2 linked regions of the Homo sapiens genome follow. The protein of the gene in region 1 interacts with the protein of each later gene in a pairwise test. Each region holds a gene or a part of one and is shown in the gene's direction. Other genes may lie near its edges.

Region 1 (10,923 bases):
TTTTTTGAGACGGGGTCTCCCTCTGTTGCCCAGGCTGGAGTGCAATGCATGATCTTGACTCACTGCAACCTCCGCCTCCTGGGTTCAAGCGATTCTCCTGCCTCAGCCTCCCGAGTAGCTGGGATTACAGGCATGCACCACCATGCCTGGCTAATTTTTGTATTTTTAGTAGAGATGGGGTTTCACTCTGTTGGTCAGGCTGGTCTCAAACTCCTGGCCTCAGATGATCCACCCACCTTGGCCTCCCAAAGTACTGGGATTACAGGTATGAGCCACCATGCCCGGCCCCTACTCTTCACTTTATTTAAACTAATACTTCATCTAGTGTTGGCTCTGCCAAGAGCCCAGAGCTGTAGAAATGGGTGGACCAATAAGGGTCAGACCCTGCCTTCTTTTTACCAACCCAGGATTCATTTTAGCCCATTTGTTGGTTTCATAGTCAACTAAGAAACAAGGCAAAGGGAAGAAATGACTAAATAGAGGTGTGAATCAGAAGTGGAGGAACACAAGGGGCTCATGAATTGTTCTGAGGGCCTTCAAGGACTCCTCTGTGGACAGGGCCAGGTGCAGTGGCTCAAGCCTGTAATCCCAGCATTTTGAGATCTGAGATCCGAGGTGGGCAGATCACTTGAAGTCAAGAGTTCGAGACTCACCTGGCCAACATGGTGAAATCCTGTCTCTACTAAAAATACAATTAGCCAGGAATGGTGTCAGGCACCTGTAATCCCAGCTACTCAGGAGGCTGAGGCAGGAGAATTGCTTGAACCTGGGAGGCGGAGGTTGCAGTAAGCCGAGATCGCACCACTGCACTTCAGCCTGGGTGACAGAGGGAGACTCCGTCTCAAAAAAAAAAAAAAGGGGACTCCTCTGTGGACAGGAGGATACCTGAGCTGGGCCTTCAAGGGGACTCAGTGGAGTCCAGGATGGTGGAGGGTATTCCAGCCTCAGGAAATGCAGGAGCTGAAGTTTCCATGAGTGAAAGCGTGGCTGTCTTGATAAAGTCTGGTAGTAGGGGCTAAGGCTGGAAAGACACAAGCCAGAGAGGGCCATGTAAAAGATATTTATTCTGTGGGCAGTGAGGAGCCACTAAATGTTATTGAGTGAGGGAGATTGGTGTCATCTGACCTATTTTAGGAAAGCAGCTCTGATGGCCCTGAGAAGGACTTGTTGGAAAAGGCTGGCCCTAGCAGGAATGGAGGGGAGGAGATAAATCAGGTTGGAGGTAGATGCCATTCAAAAAAAGGAGTGTGACTGAATGAGGGGTGAGGAGGAAGGAAGGGTCAAGACCCCAAGGGAAGAAGGGATGAGGTCAGGAAAGAGCTTGGAATGAGCCCTGGCTGGGGCAAGCATCCCTGGATCTCTAGGAATCCCACTTCTCCCTCCCCCAAGGGCATGTGCCTATGGTTGGCTGGTGCCAGGCAGGTGAGTCATGCTGCTATGCCAGTTCTGGAGTGCTGCCAATAGACACACAGACCTTCAGCAAGGGGACGCAGAGCAGTGTCTTCCGTTCATTCATCCAATAAATATAGCTACAGAGCTGTCAGGACACCAGTGCCAGGCCCTGTGCTAAGCATTTTACAGGCATTCTCCCATTTAATCTGCATAGCAATCTATGACGTAAAGTGGGAGCTTTGTGTGTTTCATGAACTCACATTCAATGCAGCAAACAGCTACTGAGCACCTACTGTGTGCCAGCCCACAAAGACAAACCTGAAATGAAGGGCTGTAGGGTCTGAGGAAGATGTGGGTGAGCATTAGAGTCCCCAGTTGTCTCTACCAGGCCCCAGCCTGGCAGGGTTCTTGGAGGAGAACCTCTGTCTAGCCTGTGCCCCATCCCCAGGGTGGGAGGGGAAAGAGGGCCCCAGAGGCCAGTGCAGGGGCTGGAGTTCCACTGTGGCGAGTTTACTGGGTTAGGTCATCACTGAGAACTTAAGGGTTAGCAGAGATGCTGAGTCTGCTTGCCATCATCCATTCGATCATTCATTCATTCACCAGTCACTAAGCACCTACTATGTGCTAGAGCCTGTCACAGATGCTGGGGACACCAAGATGATTAAGACACAAGCTCGGGAGCCACAGTGGCTCAGGCCTGTTGTCCTGGCGCATAAGGAGGCAAGGCTAGGCATTTGAGGCCAGCCTGGACAACATGGAAACCTCTCATCTATGTGACAACAACAACAAAATTTATAGCCGGGTGCAGTAGCTCACGCCTGTAATCCCAACACTTTGGGAGGCCAAGGTGGGCGGATTGCCTGAGCTCAGGAGTTTGGACCAGCCTGGGCAACATGGTGGAACCCTGTCTCTACTAAAATACAAAAATAATTAGCCAGGCGTGGCGGCATGCGCCTGTAGTCCCAGCTACTCAGGAGGCTGAGGCAGGAGAATTGCTTGAACCTAGGAAGTGGAGGTTACAGCAAGCCGAGATCACACCACCGCACTCCAGCCTGGGTGACAGAGTGGGACTCGGTCTCAAAAAAAAAAAAAAAATACACAAGCTGGCCCTCTGGATGCTCCCTGAGGAGCCCAGCCAGAGTCCCACATGCAGCAGTAGCTGCAGCCCCAGGTTATCTTTCATTCTTGGAAGAAGATGCAGTGTTTCTGATTAGGCCAGCACTGAGACCTCAAACCATGAAGCCCAACATGAAAGAGAGAAAGCAGTGGCTAACAGAACCTTCAGAATGAAGACCTGGGAAATCGGCTCTCAAAACCACCCTGAAGGAGCAAATGCGGGAGCTCAGGGAGGAATGGGAAAGGGGCCTGAGTGCTCTGTAAGGGTGGCCTCCTTCCCAGCTGCCACATTGACTCAGGACCCTCCAACCTGGGCAATTGTTCCTGGACTCATAGCCACACAAGCTGCCTGGTGGGGACTGCAGAGATGGGAGTGCCAGCACATCACAAAGAGAGAAGAAGCAGTCCAGGAAAATCAGAGGGCAAATGCAGAGAAGACCTGGCAGGCAGTTGGACCTGGATTACAGTGAAAAGAAGGTTAAGACTTAGAGCCCGTTTCAGGCTGAAGGCTGAGGAGCTGCTGCTCCCATCACCAAGTTCCCCTGAAAGCAATAGTTTCCAAGCTCTAGACTTCACAGATCAGTGAAATCTGAGAGAAAAAAAAAATAGTATCTAACAAAGAGCTGCCAAATTTTATATTGCTGAGTAAGAACATTTAAGAAGTAATCATCTCTCATCATAATCATTTCATCAAAGTGAATTATTTATTTTTAAAACTTATTTTATTTATTTATTTATTTATTTATTTATTTATTTATTTATTTTTTGAGACCGAGTCTTACTCTGCCGCCCAAGCTGGAGTATAGTGGCACGATCTTGGCTCACTGCAACCTCCACCTCCTGGGTTCAAGTGATTCTTGTGCTTCAGCCTCCCAAGTAGCTGGGACTACAGGTGCGTGCCAACACGCCTGGCTAATTTTTGTATTTTTAGTAGGGATGGGGTTTCACCATGTTGCCTATGGCTGGTCTCGAACTCCTGGGCTCAAGCAATCCACCTGCCTCGGCCTCCCAAAGTGCTTGGATTATAGGCGTGAGCCACTGTACCTGGCCTATTTATTTTTTGAGGCAGGGTCATTCTCTCTCTCTCTCACTGTCACTCAGGCTGGAGTGCAGTGGCATGACCTTGGCTCACTGCAACCTCCCCTTCCTGGGCTCAAGTAATCCTCCCACCTCAGTCTCCCAAGTAGCTGGCACTACAACAAAAGCCACTACGCTTGGCTAATTATTTAATTTTTTTGTAAAGATGGGGTCTCACTATATTGCCCAGGCTGATCTCAAACTTCTGGGCTCAAGAGATCCTCCCACCTCAGCCTCCCAAAGTGCTGGGATTATAGAGGTGAGCCACTGTGCCTGGCCTATTTATTTTTAGAGACACGATCTTGCTATGTCTCTGGAGCTGGTCTCGAACCCCTGGGATTGAGCAATACTTCTGTCTAAGCCTCCCCAGTAGCTGGGACTAAAGGCTGGCACTACCACACCCAGCCAAAGTGAATTTTTAATGCCAAAAAAGTAAAGAAAAAAATAATCTTGGTGCTTGAAAGAGTGAATATATTTAATCTCATGAAAAACTCAACTCTGGTGGCCTTTAATGTTGTTTTGCAGGGATCCAGGCCAGTTAGTGGGCAGGTGTCTGAGCTCAGGGTTGGGACTGGGGCTGAAGCTGAGGTGGGGAACTCACCCCTTTTGGGGGCCCCTCCAGGGGCCCTGCTCTTGCTGGGGGCTCCCCAGGATCAGCCAGAAGGGCTCTGAGACCACCCAGGAGGATGTCTCTGTGGGGTGTCCTTGGTGTGGTTGGGGGAGAGGCTGCCTGTCTCCTCGGGTCCTGGAGAAGGTGCCCTCTTTGGATCACCAGAAACTCCGAGGAGACGCACGCCAGAAGCTGCCCATGGACTTGCTGGTGCTGGAGGATGAGAAGCACCACGGGGCTCAGAGTGCAGCCCTGCAGAAGGTGAAGGTAAGCCTGGGAGGATCCAATGTCTGCACCCAGGGGACCAGCCAGGTAGCCATGGCCTGTCTGCACCTCTCCCCACGTGGCCCATGGACCAGCAGTTCAGCACCCCCGGTAGAGCTTGCTAGCCCTGCAGAATCTCCGCCCCGTCCCAGAACTACTGAGTCAGAATTCCCCCAATGTGAGAGCCATCTAGGCCTGGAAGGAGGGATAGACCTTGGTTCCTTCTTTCTTAAGAGGGTCTTCCTGCCCACCCCACCCTCCCCACCAGCTTAGCTCAGAGGTCTCCCAAGCCCCCCAAACTCTCTGCCCGGCCTGGGGGGTTGATGGGCCATCCCGCGCAGGGCCAAGAGCGCGTGCGCAAGACGTCCCTGGACCTGCGGCGGGAGATCATCGATGTGGGCGGGATCCAGAACCTCATCGAGCTGCGGAAGAAACGCAAGCAGAAGAAGCGGGACGCTCTGGCCGCCTCGCATGAGCCGCCCCCAGAGCCCGAGGAGATCGTAAGGGTCCTGGGGAGGACACCGCGAGGGGGCGGAGGGGGAGCCCGGGAGGCTTCGGATTGCTGGGACGGCCCGTGACTGCTGCGTCCACATCTGCAGACTGGCCCTGTGGATGAGGAGACCTTCCTGAAAGCTGCGGTGGAGGGGAAAATGAAGGTCATTGAGAAGTTCCTGGCTGACGGGGGGTCAGCCGACACGTGCGACCAGGTGATGCTCCTAGCCGCCCCTGACCAGCCTCCCTGTCAGTTGCCACCCCCACTCCGTTCGGCTCCTGGGTCAGCCCACTGTGAGCCTATTTGAGAGGAGGCACCGGTGTTCTTTGGATGGGTGGGTGGCTGGGGCGCTCAGAATGGGTGTCCCTTCCCCGTACAGGAATTGACCTAAATCCTTAAACCCTTTTCCAACTTGAATCACCTGCAGAGCAACAAATGTCACATGTTTGTTTAGGAAAGAAAGAAAAATAGAATCAAATAAAAACAGACCAGGACCAGAAGATGTGGGCTCAAATCCCATCTCTCTCACTCACGAGTTGTGGGACCTGTGGCTGGGTCGGTGCCCTCTCCATGCCTCAGTTTCCTCCTCTGTAAAATGGCCTACTTCCCTCACAACATGTTACGGTGATCAAATGGAATATTAGGCTGGGCACTGTGGCTCACGTCTGTAATCCCAGCACTTTAGGTCAAGGTGGGAGGAGCGCTTGAGCCTAGGAGTTCAAGACCAGCCTAAGCAACAGAGTGAGACCCTGTCTCTATACATATATAGATAAAGATATAGATTTTTTTTTTTTTTGGTAAAAGGAAAAAAGGAATATTAGCACCTCAGTAACTCAGTATTCACTGAATGAATGAAGAAACTATCAAGCATGTGTTAAGATATGATATTTTTGTTTCTCATGGTATAGTACTGTACTTTTTTTTTTTTTTTTTGAGACAGAGTCTCACTCTGTCACCCAGGCTGGAGTGCAGTGGCGCAATCTCAGCTCACTGCAACTTTCGCCTCTTGGGCTCAAGCAATCCTCCCACTTCAGCCTCCCAAAGTGTTGGGATTACAGGCTTGAACCACCACTCCTGGCCTATTTTTTTTTCATGGTAAAACATAACGTGAAATGTTCCACTTTAACCATTTTAAGTGTACAATTCAGTGGCATTAATTACATTCACAATGTTGTGCAGCCATATTTTCTTTTTTTTTCTTTTTCTTTTTTTTTGAGATGGAGTCTTGCTCTGTCCCCCAGGCTGGAGTGCAGCGGTGCGATCTCAGCTCACAGCAGCCTCCACCTCCCAGGTTCAAGTGATTCTCCTGCCTCAGCCTCCTGAGTAGCTGGGATTACAGGCGCCCGCCACCACACCCGGCTAATTTGTTTATTTTTAGTAGAGACAAGGTTTCAACATGTTGGCCCTTGACAACAAGCTGGTCTTGAACTCATGATCTCAGGTGATCCACCCACCTCGGCCTCCCAAAGTGCTGGGATTACAGGCATGAGCCACCGTGTCCGGCCCCTTACAGCCATATTTTCTAAATTTTTCATCACCCATCATACTTCTTTTTGTTTTGCCTGAAACTGCCTCTTTCACACTTCCCGGGGTGCTTTCTTGCTCTCGTATCCTGGAATTTGGCACATTAGTGGTTTTCCACCTTTGGTCTGCATTATTGTAGACTTGGACCACATGTCCTTTCTGTTCTTTAGACTCCAGAGTCTTCATCCTCTCAGTCTGTCCAACTACCTCCTACTTCCGAGCACCATGCTAGGTGCCAGAATACAAAAAAACAAAAAAAGCAAAACAAAACAAAAAAACAGACCAGGGTTGGTTCCTTGGGGAGACTGACATGTAACCAGATCATTAGAATAAGGAAAGATACTCACTGTGTGTGTCCTGTAACCAGATCATGAGAATATGGAAAGATATTGTGGCTTGAGCGTTTCAAAAGTCCAAGGCAGAAAGGAGAAGGGGAAAAGTTTATTCTTTCTTTGAATCAGTGATCAGTGTCACCTGTTCATGCTGGCCTTGTGCTAGGCACTTGGGGAGTCCAGCAAGACTTGACCTGCCCTCGAACACACTCTCACAGTTAAGGGTCATCTGGGCCCTAGGGAAGCCCTGGCCTAGAGGTTTCAAGGAAATGATGGCATTTGAGCTGCATCTTGAAGGAGTAGCAGATTTTATCAAGCACTCCCAGGAAGTGAGGGCAAAACAGGCATGCTTGGCAGAGGAAACCACCTGTAGAGAGGCATGGCTTGATGTGCCTGGGGGGCAGTGAGAAGGTCGGGTTCCCTGGGGCAGAGGGCTCCCAGGCTGGTCTGGATAGAGCATAAGGGAGCTGGCAGAACACAGAAAACATGGGGGCCAAGCACAGGGGTGAGAATCAAGCTGGGGGGAAGGCCTGGGCCTCAGCTTGGGTGGGAGATGGGCTCAGGCCTGGAGCCAGAGGCCAGGCCCTGACAGCCTCTCTGGGGACAGTTCCGTCGGACAGCACTGCACCGAGCTTCCCTGGAAGGCCACATGGAAATCCTGGAGAAGCTTCTAGATAATGGGGCCACTGTGGACTTCCAGGATCGGGTGAGTGAGAGGGCAGGTATTCAATGGGAGACAGGAGGTGGGTCCAGCACTGACAGACACCCTCTCCCTGCCACCTGTGCCAACCTGAAGCATAAACAGGTTGCTCAGGTGCCAGACTCCACCTCAGTGGCTTATGTGACCTTGAGTAAGCCCCTTCTCCTCCCTAAGCATCCTCTGTGAGTCTGGCTTGGACCAGATGGGCCCTGAGTGTTCTTCTGTTCCACTTGGTCCATTGCCCATGCCCAGGCCTGCTCCCTGTACCTTTCCCCTAGATATCCCTCTGCCTTCCTGGCTGGGGTACATTACCCCCGAATACTTTCTTCCCTGCAGCTCTGTAGTTAGACCCCCTCATTTCTTTCTAGCTGGACTGCACAGCCATGCATTGGGCCTGCCGCGGGGGCCACTTAGAGGTGGTGAAACTTCTGCAAAGCCATGGAGCAGACACCAATGTGAGGGATAAGGTGAGGCAAAAACACTCAGAAGCAACAGATATTGGGGTGGCTGTGGGGAGAAAGGCAGGGGTCCAAGGGCAGGAAAGCCTAGGGGGCAGGAAGGTAGTGAGCTAGTCTGGTTTCTGGCTGCAGAGCAGGGAAGCTAAAACAGTGTCCTACTGGGCCTCCCAGCCCAGGGATGGGTCCCTGCCATCCACACAGGCCCTTGAGGAACCACCATCTGAGGATAGGAGCAGGAAGAGCAGACAAGAAGGGAAGACAAGAGACTCACTGTGTTGGGGGCTTTGGGACCACTCAAAAGATGCAAGATTTGTTCATGTTATCTGTCATTATCCTTCTGTCTACCTATCTATTCATCTATCCGTCTATCCATCCATCCATTCCTCCATTTATTCATCCCCTCATTCATTTATTTATTTATGCACCATCCTTCTATTCATTCATTATTTCATGTACAACCTTGAACAAGTGACAGCCTCTGAGCTTCTGTTGCTCATCTGTGAAATGTCTTGCAGAGTTCTTGTGTAGCTTAGGTGGGAAAACATGTGTAAATGAATTATTTATTCAACATAAGGCAAATGTCTTGTAAGCTTTTGCCATGTCCATTACATAGTCATCTCTCAATAAATGACATATATTATGATTATTAAAAGAAGGGTAGAAGAGTGAGCAGCTGGGTGAGAGGAGAATCACAGAAGGCTTCCCAGAGGAAGTGGCATTTAAGGCTTTAGAGTTAGGCCATTGGATAGGATGGTAAGAAATTGTACCATTCTCTGCCCCTCCAAGGCTCAGGCCTTGGCACTAGGACTTGGAAGAGGGATTAAGCTGGAGTTAGGACAGCCCCCGCCTTCCCAGGGGTACCACAGTTCAGGCCCCGTCAACTAGCAGTTCCTGATTCCTCCCACCCAGCTGCTGAGCACCCCGCTGCACGTGGCAGTCCGGACAGGGCAGGTGGAGATTGTGGAGCACTTTCTATCCCTGGGCCTGGAAATCAATGCCAGAGACAGGGTGAGTGCTAGCCTGTCCGCTGCTCACCCGCCATGGGTGTGTGGGCAGCCTGCGGGCCCCTACAGGTGGTGTCCTTCCTCCTGGGGCCTTCAGGACTTGGCTCCTGAGCAGGGTCTCCAGCCCACCTCCCATCACCCTTGCCTCCTCCCACTGCCCACAAGGGCCATAGTGAGTGCCACACTGACTCTAGGAAGGGGATACTGCCCTGCATGACGCTGTGAGGCTCAACCGCTACAAAATCATCAAACTGCTGCTCCTGCATGGGGCTGACATGATGACCAAGAACCTGGTAAGCTCATTCCCTCCTTGATTCAGTCACTGGCGTGAGCACTCATACAGTGGAGGTGCTGTCCTGGTCCCTGGAGCAGCCCCCGCCTAGGGACATGTATCATTGGCTCTGGCCAGCACCATAGTACATAAACTTGTCCTCTTCCAGAGCACCATTCCAACTGTCCGCCCCATTCTCTATGTGTGTCTATGTCCAGAGTGCAAGTGCAGAGAGACAGCAGGAGGGGCAGCAAGAGGACTTCCCAAAGACCCCCAAGTAGGCCAGAGGGGGTCCTCAAGTACTGGCCCAAGGAGGCCAGAATCATGAAAGGCCAGAGCTGGAAGGGACCGAGCACTCAGCTGGCATGACAGTTCCTAGCACCCCATGTCAGCTCCTGTGGTCTTTGAGTTTTCTTAGGATCTAGGCAGGAAGTCCTTGGAAGGGGAAGGTGCCCAGGGAACACCTTGGACTAGGGAACACTTAGTCCAAGTTCTTCTTTGGGGCCCAGAGCATTCACAAAAGGAGGCCATGGGAGAGTCCCTCGGGCTCAAGAAAGGCTAAAGGGATAATGAGAAAAGCAGGAAAATATGGAGAAGGTATAAATGAGGGGTTTTCACCCTCAGCATTATTGACATTTAGGGCTGGGTGATTGTTTGTTGTAGGGGACCATCCTATGCCTTGTAGGATATTTAAGCAACATTCTTGGCCTCTGCCCACTAGATGCCAGTAGTACCCATCCCCTAGTGTGACAACCAAAAGTATCTTCACACAATGCCAGTTGCCCCCATTTGAGAAGCACTGGTGGTGTCAATGAGGGTACCTTCTGTGAAAGCCTTCAGGACAGTTAACAGATTTTCTCTTGCCAACCCCCACGCCCCGTCCCGCCCCCTCCAGGCAGGAAAGACCCCGACGGACCTGGTGCAGCTCTGGCAGGCTGATACCCGGCACGCCCTGGAGCATCCTGAGCCGGGGGCTGAGCATAACGGGCTGGAGGGGCCTAATGATAGTGGGCGAGAGACCCCTCAGCCTGTGCCAGCCCAGTGAATGCGTGCCCCAGCCCAGCCAGCTACCCAGCCCCTCTCTGTGTGCAGCCGGAGGGTCCTAAGAATGGCTCCCGGAGCTAACTGAGGGCCCAGCCTTTTTTCTGCATGATCCAGGAGCACATACCACAAACTACCACAATAAAAAAGCTGTTTTTGCTAATTGCGATGTTCATTTCCACTTGTGTCTGAAATCTTTGGGAATGAAGGAAGACTGGGGGCAAATGCTGGTTTGGGGAGGAGGGAAACTGGGAGCCGGTTGGCCCTCTGAGCCAGCCCTGCAGCTTCTTTACTGTGGTCTCTTTTCCTTTCCTCCCTGCCACTCAACTTTTCCTGCCCCTTCTCACATCTCCAGGGCCAGGCTTGGCCCCTGCATGGATTGACTTGGTAATACACTCATCCTGGCCCCCTTCCTGGTGCCTGCTGTCCTGTGGGGCTGTGAGTGGCTAGCACAGGCTTGTCACGTGGCTGCCTTGGCAGGAGGAGCCTGGTAAGGGAGCGGGGCAGGGGATGGACAGCCTGTCACAGGCAGCTTCTTGCCCAGCCTTGCCACACCTCCCACAGGGCAGGACCTGCTCAGCCAATCAGCTCCACCAACCTCAGAACTGCCCGTGGAAACCTGGCTGGGCTTCTGGCTTCAG
Region 2 (10,923 bases), on another chromosome or scaffold:
AACATAATTATATATTGTGCTTTGTGATTTATGTGAATTTTCTGTTTTAATAAAGACAATTTGAAATAGGTATTAGTCACTATTTTTCATGGTTTTTTTTTAAAGATAAGCTGAATGTACAGTTCTAAGTTGAAACTTGGTAATAAGATAAATCTTTTGACTGATTTTAAAACAGCCAACGTTTAGCAAGGTGGCTTAAAATAAGATTGAGAGGGGGAAAAAGATTGAGAATGGCAGTTTAAGAGTGGGGCTGGGTGCGTTGGCTCACACCTGTAATCCCGGCACTTTGGGAGCCTGAGGTGGAAGGATCGCTTGAGGCCAGGAGTTCAAGACCAGTCTGGGCAACATAACGAGACCCTGTCTCAATTTTTAAAATAAAAGAAAAAAAATTTCCCACCCCATCCTCTGGTTTTTCTGTGTATACTGTTTATTTTTCCAAAGGGATTTGAGGAGTTTGTGGACAGTAAAGTGTTTGTTGTTTTTGTGAGACAGGGTCTTGCTCTGTCACCCTGGCTGGAGTGTAGTGGTGCGATCACTGTTCACTGCAACCTCTACTTCCCGGGCTCAGGTGATCTTCCTGCCTCAGCCTCCGGAGGAGCTGGGACTACAGCTGTGTGCGACCATGCCTGGCTAGTTTTTCGTATTTTTTGTAGAGATGAATGTTCACAGTGTTGCCCAGGCTGTTCTTGAACTCCTGGGCTCAAGCAATCTGCCTGCCTCAGCCTTCCAGAGTGTTGGGATTACAGGTGTGAGCCCCTGCTCCCAGCCCATAAAATGTATTGTTAATGTGAATTAAATTTTTGGAACTATTTTGGAAGAGTATTGCATGATTTATACCTAGAGGTTTTTTTTTTACAAAGTTTAATTCAAACTTAAAAAAAATTTCCTACTAGAGGAAACATAAAAATACAAATATAAAAGTATTGAAAATTTTCAGAGCATCACATTACTTAGAGGTTTAACGTATTTTCGGCATTGTTTTCAAATATAGGTAATTAGCTGTAGTGCATAATTCAGAGTTTAAAAACAAACTGAGGCCGGGGGCAGTGGCTAACGCTTGTAATCCCAGCACTTTGGGAGGCTGAGGAGGCAGATCACGAGGTCAGGAAATCGAGACCATCCTGGCCAACATGGTGAAACCCCGTCTCTAATAAAATACAAAAATTAGCTGGGTGTGGTGGCACGTGCCTGTAATCCCAGCTACTCAGGAGGCTGAGGCAGGAGAATCGCTTGAACCCGGGAGGCAGAGGTTGCAGTGAGCCGAGATTGTGCCAGTGCACTCCAGCCTGGGTGACAGAGCGAGACTCCGTCTCAAAAAAAAAAAAAAAAAAAAAACCGAAAAACAAACAAAATAACTGGATATCTTAGCCTGCTTCCTGTCTCCAAGGTACTGCTTTATGAAATGCTGAGCCTTCTTACCACTGCTATCCAGTTCTTTGTTACATTTGAACCTTGTGTTACTCTAGGTCCCCTGTTAAAATGGAAAGAAGATGCCTCAGAAGTAAATTCTGTGTGGCATTGTTGGCTGCCTTCATTAGTTCCTTCAGCCTGTTTTGTGGGCTGTTGAACATTACACTACAACCTGCCAGTGGTGTGGGAATTTTGCTCATTTTTATTGCTGAGAGCCTTGACTGAGACTTCACAAAAACAACTCCAATGTTACTGTAGTTAATGGCATTTTCCAGGGGTTGCTTTCATGTGAAGCTGATGCTTTTAAGGTGACAGTGATTTGGGCCTAGTCCAGCATTGATTGGTTTTTTCACCTCCATGAACTGCGTATTTGGAAAATAATGTGTGTCTCTCTAAGAGTTTTTTTGTTTGTTTGTTTTTTGTTTTTGAGACGCTGTCTCCCTCTGTTGCCAGGCTGGAGCGCAGTCGCGCCATCTCGGCTCACTGCAACCTCCACCTCCTAGGTTCAAGCGATTCTTCAGCTTCAGCCTCCCGAGTAGCTGGGACTACAGGTGCGCACCACCATGACCAGCTAATTTTTGTATTTTTTTTAGTACAGACAGGGTTTCATTATGTTGGCCAGGATGGTCTCATCTCCTGACCTTGTGATCCGCCTGCCTGGGCCTCCCAAAGTGCTGGGATTACGGGCATGAGCCACCGCGCCCAGCCAATAGAGTTCTAAAAGTTTTGTCTTTTATACATGTCAGTCTTCTAAGTCCATTTCTAAAAAATTGTTCAGAGATTGAATGTTTGTATAGCAAATACAATTTCCCATTGATTTTCGTTAAATTTGGTATTTTTTTCACAGAAAAAAATGGTATCATAAAACTTGTTTTTTAGAATCCTAGCATTTACCTCAGAAAAGTCTGCCTCTGCAGAAAGTGCAAATCTGTATGCATTTAATTCTGTACAATCATAAAACTTTAAAATATTAGTGTTTTGGAGGGGTCATGGGCATTATCTTGCTTCATTCATGTACATCGTTTGACAGCTAAGGAAACCAAGGCCTGAAGAGATCTAAGATCTTGGTACTGAAAGTGTGATTTCTGGACCAACAGTATTAGCATCACCTGGGAACTTGATAGACGTTAGAATCTTGACTTCATCTCAGTCCTACGGTCCTACTGAATTAGAATCTTAGAATCTACTTTTTCTTTTTCTTTTTTTTTTTTTTTGGAGACGGAGTCTCACTCTGTCACCCAGGCTAGAGTGCAGTGGCACGATCTTGGCTCACTGCAAGCTCCGCCTCCTGGGTTCACGCCATTCTCTTGCCTCAGCCTCCTGAGTAGCTGGGACTACAGCTGCTGCCACCGCGCCTGGCTAATTTTTTGTGTTTTTAGTAGAGACGGGGTTTCACCGTGTTAGCCAGGATGGTCTCGATTTCCTGACCTTGTGATCCGCCCGCCTCGGATCCGCCCGCCCGCCCAGCACTCCCAAAGTGCTGGGATTACAGGTATGAGCCACCGCGCCCGGCCTTCTTTTTTTGTAAATAAGAGGCACAATCTTGCCCTGTTGCCCAGTTTGGATTGGAGTGTAGTGGTGTGATCATAACGCACTGCCACCTGGAACTCCTGGACTCAAGTAATCCTCTCACCTCAGTAGCTGGGACTACAGGCATGTGCCATCATACACTGCCTTTTTTTTTTTTTTTTTTTTTTTTAAGAATTGGAGTCTCACTGTGTTGCCCATGCTCGTCTCAAACTCCTGGCCTCCTAACGTGCTGGGAAGAACCTGCATTTTAACAAGATTTTCAAGTCATTCAGTGCGCATTCAGTTTGAGAAGCACTGCTAAACGATGCATACACCTGGGCAACATAGTGAGACCCTGTCTCTACAAAATAAAATAAAATTAGCCTGTTGTAGTGGTGCACACCTTTAGTCCCAGCTACTTATGAGGCTGAGATGAGAGGATTGCTTGAGCCCAGGAGGTTGAGGCTGCAGTGAGCCGTGATCGCACCGCAGCGTTCCAGCCTGGGCAACAGCAAGAGACCCTGTCTCAAAAAATACGTAAATAAATAAAAATTAAAATGATGCATACATGGTTGCTCAGCTCGTTAGTCTTCTGAGTTGCTCTTTCCACTGGCCCTTCTGAAAAAAGTCAAATGGAAAATTTGGAAGCTAATCACTGCCCAGTTGAACTTTCTATGATGATAGAAGTGTTCTGTGCTATCCAGTGAGGTAGCCATTGGCCATGTGTGACTGTTGAATACTTGACGAGCAAGTAGTGCACTTGAGGAATTGAATTTTTTATTTAATTTTAATTCCTTTAAATAGTTGGGGCTGGGCGCCGTGGCTCACGCCTGTAATGCCAGCACTTTGGGAGGCTGAGGCGGGCGGATCACGAGGTCAGGAGATCGAGACCATCCTAGCTAACATGGTGAAACCCTGTCTCTACTAAAAATACAAAAAATTAGCCGGGTGGCGGGCGCCTGTAGTCCCAGCTGCTTGGGAGGCTGAGGCAGGAGAATGGCATGAACCCAGGAGGCGGAGCTTGCAGTGAGCGCCACTGCACTCCAGTCTGGGTGACAGAGCAAGACTACGTCTCAAAAAAAAATAAAAATAGTTGGATGTAGCTGGTGGTTACATGGACAGCACAGATCTAGATGATCTTTGCCCACTCTAAAATCTAAGCTGTAATTTAATAACTGGTTAGACTCAGTTTAATAATTGTCCTTTCTTAATGTACAAATTGGAGAGAGAGTATGTTGACTTAGTTTTTCTAATATGCCCAGATATTATTTCAGTATGTATTATAAAACAGTGCTGATTTTCTAATTGATACATCTGTGTTCAATAAAGTAGATAATCTAAGTTGTAAGCAAGTCAGTTTCTTTCCATCTTAACAGGTATTTTCACTTGAATTTTTAAAAAGTAGCTATTAAGTTTTCCTTAGTTATCCTGTGGAAAGCATTGGCAGGATAGTTTTTGCCTCTGGCCTAGTCCCTCTAGGCTTGTTGGCACTTGTTGATTACTTCCAGATTGATCTGCTGTTTATGTTAATTCCAGGTACCGAAACAGTGGTTCTTAACCTCCTACCTTTTTTTGTTTTGTTGTTGTCGTTGTTTTGAGACGGAGTTTTGCTCTTATTGTTCAGGTTGGAGTGCAATGGTGTGATCTTCGCTCACTGCAGCCTCCGCCTCCTGGGTTCAAGTGATTCTCCTGCTGCAGCCTCCCAAGTAGCTGGGATTACAGGCATGCACCACCACGCCCAGCTAATTTTATGTTTTTAGTAGAGATGGGGTTTCAACCATGTTGGCCAGGCTGGTCTTGAACTCCTGACCTCAAGTGATCCACCCGTCTCGGCCTCCCAAAGTGCAGGGATTACAGGCGTGAGCCACCGTGCCTGGCCTTAACCTCCCACCTTATGCAGTGGGAAGATTCTAACCCTATAGTCACAGGCCTATGTCCAAATCTTGGCATTTACTGTGTGTGTAAAGAGCATCAGTGCTCTTGTTTGTAAAATGACATTTACAAGACTGTAGTTTGAGATGAGAGAAATAATTTGTCATTTAGAAAATGCCTGTCATGGCTGGGCGCGATGGCTCATGCCTGTAATCTCAGCACTTTGGGAGGCCGAGGCAGGCGGATCACAAAGTCAGGAGTTCTAGACTAGCCTGGCCAACATGATGAAAACCCGTCTTTACTAAAATACAAAAAATTAGCTGAGTATGGTGGTGCATACCTGTACTCCCAGCTACTCTGAAGGCCCAGGCAGGAGAATCGCTTGAACCCAGGAGGCGGAGGTTGCAGTGAGCCGAGATCACACCATTGCACTCCAGCCTGGGCGACAGAGCAATACTCTGTCTTGAAAAAAGAAAATGCCTGTCACAGCCGGGCGCGGTGGCTAATGCCTGTAATCCCAGGACTTTGGGAGGCCGAGGCGGGCGGATCACAAGGTCAGGAGTTCAAGACCAGCCTGGCCAGCGTGGTGAAACCCCATCTCTACTAAAAATACGAAAAAACTGGCCATGGTAGCGTATGCCTGTAATCCCAGCTACTCGGGAGGCTGAGACAGAAAAATTGCTTGAACCCAGCAGGCGGAGCTTGCAGTGAGCCGAGATCGTGCCACTGTACTCCAGGCTGGGTGACAGAGCGAGACTCCCTCTCAAAAAAAAAAAAAAAAAAAGAAAATGCCTGTCACATAATAGGTCCTTAGTAGATGTAAGTTACCTACCCTCCCCCTCCTGCTTGGATTTTATAGCCCTCTGTAATTGAGTTTTATGCTTAAGATTCCAATCAGGCTTAATACATATTCTGAGTCTTCATCTCTACCCGTTACTGTAATTTCATGCCTTGCTTTGTTCATGTTGTATCCCATGTAGATTGTGCCATTTGTGCTCTGGATGTCTTCTCTTGACTTTTTTTTTAATCTTAATTTTTTTTTTTTTTTTTATAGGCGGGGTCTCCCTGTGTTGCCCAGGCTGGGCTCAAGCAATCATCCTGACTCGGCCTCAAAAAGTGCTGGGATTACAGGCATGAGCCACTCTGCTCAGCCTGTTGATTTCTCTTTATTTATTTATTTATTTATTTATTTATTTACTGTTTTTTGAGATGGAGTCTCACTCTGTTGGCCAGGTTGGAGTGCAGTGGCACGATCTTGGCTCACTGCAGCCTCTGCGTCCCAGATTCAGGTGATTCTTCTGCCTCAGCCTCTTGAGTAGTTGGGACTGCAGGTGCCCACCACCACGCCCGGCTAATTTTTGTATTTTTTTTTTTTTTTTTTTTTTTTGAGACGGAGTCTCGCTCTGTTGCCCAGGCGGAGTGCAGTGGTGCGATCTCAGCTCACTGCAAGCTCTGCCTCCCAGGTTCACGCCATTCTTCTGCCTCAGCTTTCCGAGTAGCTGGGACTACAGGCGCCTGCCACCACGCCCGGCTAATTTTTTGTATTTTTAGTAGAGACAGGGTTTCACCGTGTTAGCCAGGATGGTCTCGATCTCCTGACCTTGTGATCCGCCCGCCTCGGCCTCCCAAAGTGCTGGGATTACAGGTGTGAACCACCGCGCCCGGCAATTTTTGTATTTTTAGTAGAGACGGATTCGTCTCTGTGTTGACCAGGCTGGTCTTGAACTACTGACCTCAAGTGATTCATCTGCCTTGGCCTCCCAAAGTGCTGGGATTACAGGAGTGAGCCATCGCACCCTGCCAGCCTGTTGACTTCTTAAGGACTTACCTCGTTCTTGCCTACATCATGAATTTTTCCCTTTCTGGATTATCTTTATTAATATGCAGATGTGCTTTAGGGCTGTACTGTCCAGTATGGTAGCTACTAATCAATAGTGCTTTCTGCAATGAAATGTGTGGCTGTTAAAAGAAAAATTTAAAAAATTTAGGTCCTCAGTGATGCTAGTCATATTTCAGTTGTTCAGTAGCCATATATGGTGCTAATGGCTGCTCTATTGGACAGTGCAGATATAGAACATCCCTATCATTGCAGACAACACTATTGGACAGCACTAAGTGTGGCTTCCTTGTTTATAAGCCCTCTCGCCATTCCACATTATTCTCTAGCTACAGCCTCATTTCTCTGATTCTCTTCCAAGCCAGTTTTCAAAAGTTGTCTTTTTGTGCTCTCTCCACTTCCCTTTGCTTCTCAGCCTACTACAGATTGGCCTCCATTCTTACCACTAAAACTACTCTAGTCAAGGTTGCCAGTGGTTTCTATTTACTAAATTAGTCTTACAGGCTCTTGTAGGAGCATTCAATATAGTTGACCACTGTTTTCGGCCTATTCATCTACTTCTCATTTTATGAGACATATGTTCTTGTTTTCCTTCTACTTTACACCTTGTTATACTGTATGCTTTTTTTTGTTTCTGAGACGGAGTCTCGCTGTCGTCCAGGTTGGAGTGCAGTGGCGCAATATTGGCTCACTGCAACCTCCATCTACTGGGTTCAAGTGATTATCCTGCCTCAGCCTCCCCAGTAGCTGGGATTACAGGCGCACACCACCACGCCTGGCTAATTTTTGTATTTTTAGTAGAGATGGGGTTTCACCATGTTGGTCAGGCTGGTCTCGGAACTCCTGACCTCAGCCTCCTTATTACAGGCATAAGCCACTGCACCTAGCTTTGTTTTTTTTTAATTATTAAACAGGCTTCTCTCCTTTACCTGCCTCTAAGTATTGGCATACCTAAGACAGGATAAAACTCCTGGGTTTTTTTTTCACCCTCTTTTTCTAAATTCTTCCCTAGATGGTCTCATTCAACTCATTGTTTTAAATGCCATCTGTATGTGAATAATTCTCATATTTATGTTTCTGGTTTAGACTTCTTGCCTGAGCTCCAGACATATTATCCAACTGCCTTGCTAGACATTACCACTTAGTAACCTAGTAGGCAGTTGTCTAAATATACCTAACATGTCCAAAATAGAACTCTCTTCCATAATATTCTTCCAGTCTTTCTCTCTTCTGTAACTGGCACCTAGGATTTATCCTTGAATCCTGTTTTTCCCTTATCCCCATAGCTAATCCATCATCAAGTTCTTTTGGTCTCCAAAATATCACTTAAATCTGTTTATTCAATTATCTGTTTTACATCTTTATTTCTGCCACCTTAGTCTCAGCCACCATTATGTCACCTGGCTTACTGAAATAGCTCTTAACTGGTCTTTGCTTTTACTCAGCTACCTTCTTCAGACATTCTTCTCCCAGTAACAAGAATCTTCTTTCAGAAATGTAAATGAAATAATGTAGATTGCCTGCTTAAAATGGTTTCATAGTTTTTCTTTGGTCTTAGTTATGAGATTCAGAATCCTGCCTCATGTGTTCCTTCCTTCCTCATTGCTACCTCCTTTCCTTTGCCCTTTGCTGTGGATGCTGTGGCTACACTGGCATTTCTTTTGCTCCAAAATGCCAAGTTTTATCCTGCCTTAGGTTTGTTCAATTTGTTGTTTCCTCTGTTAGGAATGCCCTTCTCCCATCTCTTAGCAGTGCTGGTAGCTTCTTATTCAGGTTTCAGCTCCTCAGAGGGCCATTTCCCAGCTACTAGGCCAAATCTGAATTTGTTAATTAGCTAACATGTTTGTTGGTCTTTCCTTACTAGAATGCGAGCTCTTCGGAAGCAGAAGAACCTTGTCTGTCTTATTCTCTACTATATTGTCAAACAGTGCCTGGCACATGCTAAGTGCTCAGTAAATTTTTGTGGACTGTATAAAATGTTTGATTCCTTTAAATCTCAGAAGGGAAAAACTGCATAATAATTGCATTGTACCCAGTGTAACGTGATTCTGGACTGGGTCCTTTACCTCCCAAGTACATGATTGAGATAATTGCAGAAACTTAAATGGGGCCTGATTATCAGATGGTAGTACTATACCAGCGTTAATTTCTTGATTTTGATGGTTGTGTTTTAGTTATGCAGAAGAAGGCTTTTTTTTTTTTTTTTTTTTTTTTTTTTTTGAGGCAGAGTCTCACTCTGTTGCCCAGGATGAAGGAGTACAGCGGTGCAATCTTGGCTCAGTGCAACCTGCGCTTCCCAGGTTCAAGGGATTCTCCTGCCTCAGCCTCCCGAGTAGCTGGGACTACAGGCGTGTGCCACCATGCCCAGCTAATTTTTTTTTTTTTTTTGAGACAGGCTCTCAGTCTGTTACCCAGGCTGGAATGCAGTGGCGTGATCTCGGCTGACTGCAGTCTCTGCCTCCTGGGTTCAAGCAATTCTCGTGCCTCAGCCTCCTGAGTGGCTGGGATTACAGGCATGTGCCACCATGCCTGGCTCATTTTTTTGTATTTTTAGTAGAGACAGGGTTTCACCATGTTGGTCAGTTTGGTCTTAAACTCTTGACCTCAAAGGATCCACCCGCCTTGGCCTCCCAAAGTGCTGGGATTACAGGTGTGAGCCACCATGCCTGGCCTTAATTTTTGTATTTTTAGTAGAGAGACAGGGTTTCCCCCTGTTGGCCAGGCTGGTCTCAAACTCCTCACTTGAAGTGATCCGCCCACCTTGTCCTCCCAATGTGCCGGGACTACAGGTGTGAGCCACTGCCCCCAGCCAGAAGAAGGTCTTTGTCTATAGGAAATATACTCTACTCAAAAGGTTGGGGAGTGAAGGGAGATATGTACTATACTTGTCAATAAAAAAATAAGTTACAGTGAGAGATAATGGAATTTGGTTTACAAACCTGGTTCAAATCCTGGCTCTCTCATTCATGTGTGATCTTGAATGTGTTTTTTAAGTTCTCTAAAATAAAGATTATATTTTGCCTATTTTGCCTATTGGGAGGATTTAGTGTAAGGGTATATGTCCAACACAATGCTTCACACATAATACAGTCTCAATAAAACCTTGCTTATATTCTTGTAAAATGTTGACCAGGCGTGGTGGCTCACACCTGTAATCCCAGCACTTTGGGTGGCCAAGGTGGGAGGATCGCTGGAGCCCAGGAGTTCAAGACTAGCATAGGCAACATTGGGAAACCTTGTCTCTACCAAGATAATAAAAAATTGAGCCGGGTGTGGCACCTTGCACGGTGGTCATAGCTACTCAGAAGGCTGAGATGGTCCACCCACCTTGAGCAATGGAGGTGGAGGTTGCAATGAGTCATGTTCATGCCACTGCACTTCAGCTTGGGCAAGCGAGATCCTGTCTCAAGATAAATAAAATAAAAATTTCACCATTTTATTTTCATGTTCAGTGCTGTGACTTTCTTTATAATATGAACAAATAATTTTTTTTTTTTGAGGCGGAGTCTCGCTCTGTTGCCCAGGTTGGAGTACAGTGACACGATCTCGGCTCACTGCAAGCCCTGCCTCCCGGGTTCATGCCATTCTTCTGCAGCGCCCACCACCACGTCTGGCTAATTTTTTTTGTATTTTTAGTAGAGATAGGGTTTCACCATGTTAGCCAGGATGGTCTCGATCTCCTGACCTCATGATCCGCCTGCCTCGGCCTCCCAAAGTGCTGGGATTACAGGCGTGAGCCACCGTGCCCAGCCCAACAATTTTTAATTTTTTTTTTTTTTTTTTTTTTTGAGACAGAGTCTTGCTCTGTTGCCAGGCTGGAGTGCAGTGGTGCAATCTCGGCTCACTGCAACCTCCGACTCCCTGGTTTAAGCGATTCTCCTGCCTCAGCCTCCCGAATAGCTGGGATTACAGTCATGTGCCACCATGCTCAGCTAATTTTGTATTTTTCATAGAGATGGGGTTTCTCCATTTTGGCCAGGCTGGTCTTGAACTCCCAGCCTCAGGTGATCCATCTGCCTTGGCCTCCCAAAGTGCTGGGATTACAGGCGTGAGCCACTGTGCCTGGCCGTGGATAGATATTTTTAATAGACTTTTTATATTTTCGAGATATTTACCCTTTCTGAGTTTTTTATTCCTCTCTGTAGATCTGGGGTTAGTTACATTTGGTGTATTTTTCTTTCATCCTAAAAGACTTCTTTTAGCATTTCTTGAAGTGAAAGTCTGCTGGAGACAGATTTCTATCCAGTTTTTTTAAATACTTTTTTTCTTTTTTTGTTTTTGACACGGACTTTCGC

What was found.
Region 2: the proteins of ANKRD2 (region 1) and MAPK6 interact in binary tests that used the Homo sapiens proteins (3 or more experiments, as listed by UniProt).

The regions. Positions count from the first base shown.
Region 1 is NC_000010.11:97,573,440-97,584,362, forward strand, and holds the end of ANKRD2 (ankyrin repeat domain-containing protein 2), read left to right. Parts: intron 1-4,360; coding exon 4,361-4,462; intron 4,463-4,800; coding exon 4,801-4,959; intron 4,960-5,058; coding exon 5,059-5,166; intron 5,167-7,415; coding exon 7,416-7,514; intron 7,515-7,876; coding exon 7,877-7,975; intron 7,976-8,875; coding exon 8,876-8,974; intron 8,975-9,164; coding exon 9,165-9,263; intron 9,264-10,136; coding exon 10,137-10,286; 3' UTR 10,287-10,445; downstream 10,446-10,923. UniProt on the Homo sapiens protein: Functions as a negative regulator of myocyte differentiation. May interact with both sarcoplasmic structural proteins and nuclear proteins to regulate gene expression during muscle development and in response to muscle stress.
Region 2 is NC_000015.10:52,021,794-52,032,716, forward strand, and holds part of MAPK6 (mitogen-activated protein kinase 6), read left to right. Parts: intron 1-5,845; exon of another isoform or gene 5,846-6,080; intron 6,081-10,923. UniProt on the Homo sapiens protein: Atypical MAPK protein. Phosphorylates microtubule-associated protein 2 (MAP2) and MAPKAPK5.